Linked DNA regions of Homo sapiens. The protein of the gene in region 1 purifies or fractionates together with the protein of each later gene. This does not show direct contact. Each region holds a gene or a part of one and is shown on either strand. Other genes may lie near its edges. The genes, in order: KIF26B and CBLL1.

The links.
Region 2: the proteins of KIF26B (region 1) and CBLL1 purify together in Homo sapiens (affinity purification with mass spectrometry; one large-scale study listed by BioGRID and IntAct). This does not show direct contact.

The regions. Positions count from the first base shown.
Region 1 is NC_000001.11:245,605,671-245,609,493, reverse strand, and holds part of KIF26B (kinesin-like protein KIF26B), read right to left. Parts: intron 1,844-3,823; coding exon 1,750-1,843; intron 229-1,749; coding exon 1-228. UniProt on the Homo sapiens protein: Essential for embryonic kidney development. Plays an important role in the compact adhesion between mesenchymal cells adjacent to the ureteric buds, possibly by interacting with MYH10.
Region 2 is NC_000007.14:107,753,865-107,757,687, reverse strand, and holds part of CBLL1 (E3 ubiquitin-protein ligase Hakai), read right to left. Parts: intron 3,794-3,823; coding exon 3,710-3,793; intron 2,271-3,709; coding exon 2,197-2,270; intron 1-2,196. UniProt on the Homo sapiens protein: E3 ubiquitin-protein ligase that mediates ubiquitination of several tyrosine-phosphorylated Src substrates, including CDH1, CTTN and DOK1. Targets CDH1 for endocytosis and degradation.

The DNA.
Region 1 (3,823 bases):
CGCCCGGGGACTGGCCGTCCTGCAGGCTGCCCGTGGCCACCTCCGACAGCAGGTCCCGCAGGTTCTCCTCCTTCCCCCACACTTCCACGGCGGAAACCCGGACTGAGAAACGGGCGCCGGTCTTTTCCTTGCGTTCGTTTATGAGCTTGAAGAGCCAAGAGATGGCACAGGGAATGATGCCCAGGTTCTGCATGGAATCATCCTTTCCGATCATGGTGTAGGATTTTCCTGGGAGAACCAGGGAAGGAAGAAAAGCAGGTTCAGTGTCCAGGCATCATTCCACGGAGTCTCCAAAATAGATGCCAAGGATATAGAAGAAAGGCACAGGGAAGGGGGGAAAAGGGAAGAGAAGGAACAAAAAGATGAGAGAAATAGTATTTGACAACAACAGAAGGCATTTTCTGGTATTACTAACTAAATGGCTACAATAAAGAATGCTGGTTGGGCTCAGTGGCTCATGCCTGTAACCTCAGCACTTTGTGGGGGCCAAGATGGGAGGATTGCTTGAGGCCAGGAGTTCCAGGCCAGTCTGGGCAACATACGGAGACCCTGCCTCTATGAAAAATTTTTAAAAATTATCTGGGTGTGGTGGGGCATGCCTGTGGCCCCAGCTACTTGGGAAGCTGAGGCGAGAGGATCACTTGAGCCCAGGAATTGGAGGTTACAGTAATCTATGAGCATGCCACTGTACTCCAGCCCAGGCAACTGAGAGCCATCTCTTAAAAAAAAAAGAAACAAAGCAAGAGCCCAGACATGTGACAAGATTAAATCACCATGTACCTTGAGGAGGACCCCAAATATCACATGCTATCCAGTTCCTGCACTGCTTTACACACAGTGGGAAGGCTGGGCTTTTTCATCATCATTATGGTTCTTTTTATAGTTACCCCCCAGATTAAGTCCACATATTCACACTTTATATCCTGTCTCAAGTTAAATGCTGTGTATATTTTTATGGCATGAGCAAATTCTATTAAAACCCAGATCACTGCTTACATCAAGATCAAGAGAAAGGGCTGGGGAGGACGGAAGTGCAGAGAGAGGCAATGGCTTTCTGTCCTGGCTGAGAACTGGCCTCTGTGAGCTCCAGCAAGGCCTCTGTTGGAATCTCTGCCAAGGGACAGTTTTTGAAGCTCCTCAATTCACTAAACATATCAAGCGTGTAAGGGCAAGGCCTGGGGAGCAGATGGCCACAGGTCAGAAGTAAGATGGGACTGTGGGGGGATTTATGAACCCCTTGTTGGGGGGCTCTGCTGCCTCCTTTCCCAGACGCTTCAGCGCTGGAGTGTTCCCGACGGTGTGCACTGCTTTCTCCAGACGCGCCCTGGGCTCTGGGCTTTGCTTGGAGGTTGCTCCTCTGGCTTTTACAGGGGTCCAACCACCAACCCACATCCTCATGGGTGCGGTGGTGCAAGGGGCCCTATCTGCTTCCCAAACAGCGGCTGCTCAGGAAATGAATATTTTCCTGCCTGCCTTCTGGGCTTGACTCTGACCTGGACCAAGTGGGAACAACTCTGCTACTTCTCTTTCCATCTATTTGGACTTGAAGGCTTTCCTACATGAATGGGTGTCCACCTACAATGAACAACATAGGTTTTCGTCGTATAACTTGTTATTGGTTATTCAGCTCAACACCTAAGAGAAACGCAGCCCTTCCTGTCATCAGAGAACTCTGGGAGGGAGACAGAGGAATGCATGGGATGACAGGGAGCTCAACGAGCCGCATGAGAAAGTGAAACTCTCACGAACCCAGTTTGGCGTGGCCGAAACAGAACACGCAGCCATCTGCCCCGTTGACCACAGACTGGATCACCTCTGCCACGGTGCCTGCACACACTTCAGCCTGTCAGACACAAGAGGAGACACGAGCCGTGAATGGACCTCGCAGCGGAGACACCACTAACAACGAAAGTGAGCCCACCTTCCTGGGGCTTCGGGTCCCAGTGTCACTGTGTTCCCAGGTGGGTTGGCCTCTGTCGTGAAGTTTTGGAGATGCTCAGAACCCCTGGCGACCTTCCGCCCTTTGCAAGCCTGAGCATTATGCACATGCACTGCAAACCACCCTTCTGCTAATCCGTGGTACGTTTCAGCGAATGCGTCTGTAGAGCAGGCAGGAGCAGGCTGGAATGGGGGCACAGTGTGCTCATGAACCTCATTCCCTTCCCTCATCTGCCATTCTGGGGTCCCGGATAAGGTCTTTAAACTCTCCACTCACCCTCTGCTGACACACGTATACATAGAGTTTATTAAACAGGCCAGGCTTATGAGAGGGAAAAAGGTGACCCACCATTTCACAAGTGAGACCTTGAGAAACACCGTAGTTCTCACGTAAGCAAGAGGTTTGTGATATATATCTGCTTTCTCTCCTGATCTCTTTCCTCATTTTCAATTCACACCTTCCTCATTTTTTTTTTTTTTTTTTTTTTTGAGACGGAGTTTCAGTCTCGTTGCCCAGGCTGGAGTGCAATGGTGCGATCTCAACTCACTGCAACCTCCGCCTCCTGGGCTCAAGTGATTCTCTTGCCTCAGCCTCCCGAGTAGCTGGGATTACAGGCATGTGCCACCATGCCTGGCTAATTTTTTGCATTTTTTTAGTAGAGAGGGGGTTTCACCACGTTGGTCAGGCTGGTCTCAAACTCCTGACCTCAGGTGATCCACCCGCCTCGGCCTCCCAAAGTGCTGGGATTACAGGCGTGAGCCACTGCGCCCGTCCCATGCTCCTCTTTTCAAAACCTGCCTTTTCTTCCTTTTGCTACAGATACATTCAACATATAGAGTATCAGTCACCACATGGTATGTTATTAGGTGTTCTTTGGCCGGGTGTGTGTGTCTGGTCTCCAATTTGATTATTAAATCCTAGACAGGGACCAGGCTCTCGATGATGTTTTGTATTTCCCCTGAACACCCGCTAATACAGAGCTCTGCGAGCCATCAGAGCTGTCGGTTTTGTGGACTAACTTGGAGATCTGGGAAATGTCCTTCTCTTTGTTTAGCACCTGAGACTTGTCACAGAAGCAGAAAGATAGCATTATTCGCTGTGCCCTGTTGCTTTCATTTCTGTCTCGGGGCCGGAGTCAGGGCTCGTGGGAGCTCCGGGAGGCAGTGCTAACATGGGGCTTTGCAGCCCTCGGGGCAGCGTGCCTCCCGGTGGGCACCTGGGCCGTGAATGTTGTTATTCAGCAGCACAGTGAACCCAAGTATTTGGAAATCAGTTTTCTCTCCTAAACTAAAATTGAAAAACCACACTTCCAACAGCTGTCACTTGTTCCAGGGTGGTCCCCAGCAACTCTGCGGGGGGCGGGGGGCTCCTCCTGGGCCAGAGGGGGTGGCAGGACAGGGCTGCTGTAGGGCACACAGGATCTTTCAAACCCCCCAGGACTTAGGCAAGGAGAGCCCAGTGCTAACCCTGAGACAGAAGCAGTAGCGTCTTGATGGAATTTGCCAGAGGCGTGTCTGCAGAGCAGGCAGAAGGCTGCCCAATGGACTAAGCCTTCTTTGGACATAAAGTGGGATGGGAGGCAGGAGGCTGAGAAATCACCTTGAGCTATACATAAAATAAGCTGTATTTGATTCTTGAGCCACCTGGGAGAATGTTGGCTGTGTGTGGACCACACTGAGTCACCCGTGCAGAGGCCGGGGGCGAGAGGAGACCTGCTGTGCAGAGTTGGGGCGGCATCCCCTGGCACAGTTCCCACCCGGCTCTCCACTGAGAAGAGCGTGGTCAGCGGGCTGTCCATCTGGTGTGTGTTAAGAGCTGGCAGGGGCCCCGGAGGCCCCTTGCTGCTTCCCCTGGGACCTGGAGAGGCATGCAGCCTTCTCGAGC
Region 2 (3,823 bases), on another chromosome or scaffold:
GGACTACAACAAGTAACATCAGCCTCATCATTAGGGTTCTTAACATTAAACAAACAATTTCAATCCAAGCCTTGACTACTAAAAGTCCTTTAAAGAAGGGTTTTTTCTGAACTGTCAGACAAATTTACACTTTGCTAACTTTCTAATTTGTGAGCACTAAATTTAACTTAACATTTTCTTAAAAACTCAGGGTCAAAATTATAACTATTTTTCATTTACCATATTTAATCCATAATTGCCATTACAGCTTTCTTGACACAGTGGGGAAAGAGGACTGAAATAGGAATCTGAAGATCTTGGGATCTGGTATTGGCTCAGTAATTTGAAGTCATTGAACCATTTTTGAGTTTGTTTCTTCATTTATACAATGAGGTTAAAGTATCTACCTACTTCACAATGTTTTTATATCTATTTCATATTACCTAAAAGAATATTAATATCAAATGAAACAATGAAAGTGACAGTATTTAATCCCCAATTAAGCACTATATATAAATATATGTGTGTGTACATATATAAGCAATTATCATTGAATATGTGTGTCAGGTCATTTGACACTATACTAAATGGCTCTATACTCTTGATTTTGAGTTGTGTCTATCTTTCCATCCTTACTATAAGGCTGGCACTCCTTATTGATGTTATTATGCTTCCCTTTAGTGGCCATCTGGCACACTTTTTGCTTCTAGTTCACTGTAAACTCCGAACTATCTCCACCTTAACAAGATGTGAAGCACTTTCTCTTGGGTGGTGCTTAAGAACAGTAATATATACTGTTTAACTCTGACTGCCATTTCTTCACTTCCTGATCTGGGTCTGTTAATCCAGATAGGCTTCTGTCCTAAAATTGCTACTAAGGACCACATAAGTGAGGTGTGACATTTAGTACTTTGTTACATTTAAGTCCATTAGTAAGGTTAGTACATTAGAATATTCAGTACATTAGTTACATTTAGTACCTTGGGAAGTAATTTCTTTAAACAATAAGTACCTTTTAATTTCCTTTTAATACTTATACAAAAGAGGAAACCTTTAAAAGTCCTCTAAATAATGTTTTATCACATCTGAAATCCTTTATCCCGATGAAGCAATTAAATTTACTATGTAACTTAAAATGAATGTATACCATGCTGAAAAATTAGGCCTGAGAGAAAACACCCAAAAAACAAGTGATATGTATTTCTAATGTCTTAATTCTTCTGAATTATAATTCTATAAACAAAATATTTTTTAAATTCATAGAACAAATGTTATAATCTGTTACTTTAAAATGCTAATAAAAACATGCCAAGAGAATTAGTTGTCACTGAGCTGTTAATAAATCACCCCTTTCTCTCCTGGTGACGTCAAATTTTCCTACACCATAAAAGGGAATCATTGCTGACAAGTGTCCACAGCTTTGTTATCAATCAATACCACAAATCTTGGTATAGCTTTAAGCACAGGTTATAAGTGATCTAAGAAGCCTATGGCTACTCCAAGCAAGTATCTTTCATTCTTTCTTAAGCCTTCCTTATCAACGATTCTGAACTGATATAAAAATTCTTATTCTGTTTTCTTCAAGACCATCCCAAAATGGACCTAGCTTTTTATAACTTGTTTGAGACTATGTAATGATGGTGTTCTAAGACATACTCCAAATACAATAATCAGATTTGAAAGTAACAAGAGCTTATATATACAGTGCTTACTATATGCCAGCTACTATATATATGTATCTGTGTACATATGTTATATATATATAAAACCTCATTTAATCCTAAAAATACCTCAAGGAGGTAGGTACTATTATCAGTCTCATTTTATCAATAAAGAATAGCCTATGACAGTAAAACAGCTAATAAATAGCAGAACAAGGATTCGAACCCAGGAATTCTAATTCTGGAGTCTTTGCTCTCAATATATCTTAATACTTCTTTAATGTCCCATTAAAAAAAGTAACTTTTTTGTTTATAATAATACTTCTATAATGGCAAACAGATTTCATTTTGACCAATTTGAGTTGACTGATAGTGGCTACCTTGCCCTATATTAAAGAGAAACCTAACACAAGCTGGGCTCACAGAAAAAGATTAGCCATGTCTGTATGTTTCATCTCCTGCCTGATTTACATCACTCCCTAACCTTTAATCCAACTTATAAATCATTGCACTAAAACTTTATTATTTAAAAAAGGTAATGATAATCTTATCTTACCCTGGACACATCTTATCTCCCTTTTTTTCATGTAAAATAGCACAGTCATAGCAAAAAACATGCTTGCATGGAATCTGTAAACAAAGACATATTACAGTTAAGCATATTAGAACTTATAATATTTTTAAAATATATATATATAGTAACCTATACATAAGGCTTAGAAGACACTTGAGAATACCTGTTAAAATGAACATTTATTAAGTACTAATTATAATAACCTTTTTCAATCACAAAGCCTTTTGAGAACATGACAAAAACTATGGCTCTTTTCCCAATAAATGTACACACATGCATTTGCTTATACTTTCTGGAGGTGTAAACCCTATAAATTTCACCCATGGTCCCCACACGTTTTTTTCCTTTTTTTTAAGAAACAGATCTTGCTCTGTTGCCCAGGCTGGAGTCCAGTGGTGTGATCACAGCTCACTGTAACCTCAAACTCCTGGCTGATGTTCCCACCTCAGCCTCCAGAATAGCGAGGAACACAGGTGTGTGCCACCACAGCAGGCTAATTATTTTATTTTATTGTACAGACAGGGTCTCACTAAATTGTCCAGGCTGGTCCCAAACTCCTGGCCTCTGGCAATCCTCCCACCTCAGCCTCCCAAAGCCCTGGGATTATAGGTGTGAGCCACCACACCCAGCCCCCTGCAGGTCAAAAACTCCTGAAGAATACTTTTAATTATGTGTGTTTTTTTTTTAATCTTGTTTCTCCTGAAACTATTCCAATGCAGTAAAATAACAAGTATGTCCTATATTTAACGTAAGCAGCATCTTCCTCTGGTAGTTTCAAGTTAATTAACTAATAAAAATCTAAAAATCAATCAGAAGGATACATTAAATGATGTTAGAAGCACATTTTTAAATTCACAGCCTGTTACTATTTCTTTACTATGATGTTCAGCAAAGCAACACTGCATAATCCATGCCATCTACCATCACAGGTATGTTATTGAATTCAATTTTTTTTTTCTAAAGGCAAATGCAAAACTATCTTTTTTGGAGGGAAGAAATGTGAAAATTACTATAAAATTACAGTTAGGATTGTAAAATTTTTTTAATGATTATAATTCAATTTTCAGAAATAATAATTACTATTAAGCCTCTCTGAGCCTCAGGAAAAAAAGAGAAATTATAAATATTATTAATGCAGTTTTATGTAAAAAATTGTGGCCTTCAAAAATAAGCAGTTTTGTTCTATTTATTAAGAAACAAAAATTTCCTTAATAAACTAGAATAACTGTAAATTCACTGGTATCAAACACTCCAAAGGAATTAGTTTTCAGAAATTATTCTAATTTTCAGTTTTATTTAATATTTTATAAGAATTCAACAATTTGTCAAGATAATCATATTAAATTCATAGTATTCCAATACTTCCCTTAGTTATTTCATACTTATTTAAAATTTTGCAAACTTAGTCATTAAACAATGATAAACCTATCTAAATTTCAGAACCCCACCTCTATGCAAATGCTTACTTACAAAAACAATATTTAATTATACTTACCATTCTCCCATAGATTTTAATAGGCAATCCACACTTGTCACAGAAATGAACTGGTGTATCATCCTTTTCACCTAAGATGTTTATCTGTTGAAATGATATAATTAAAATTACCTT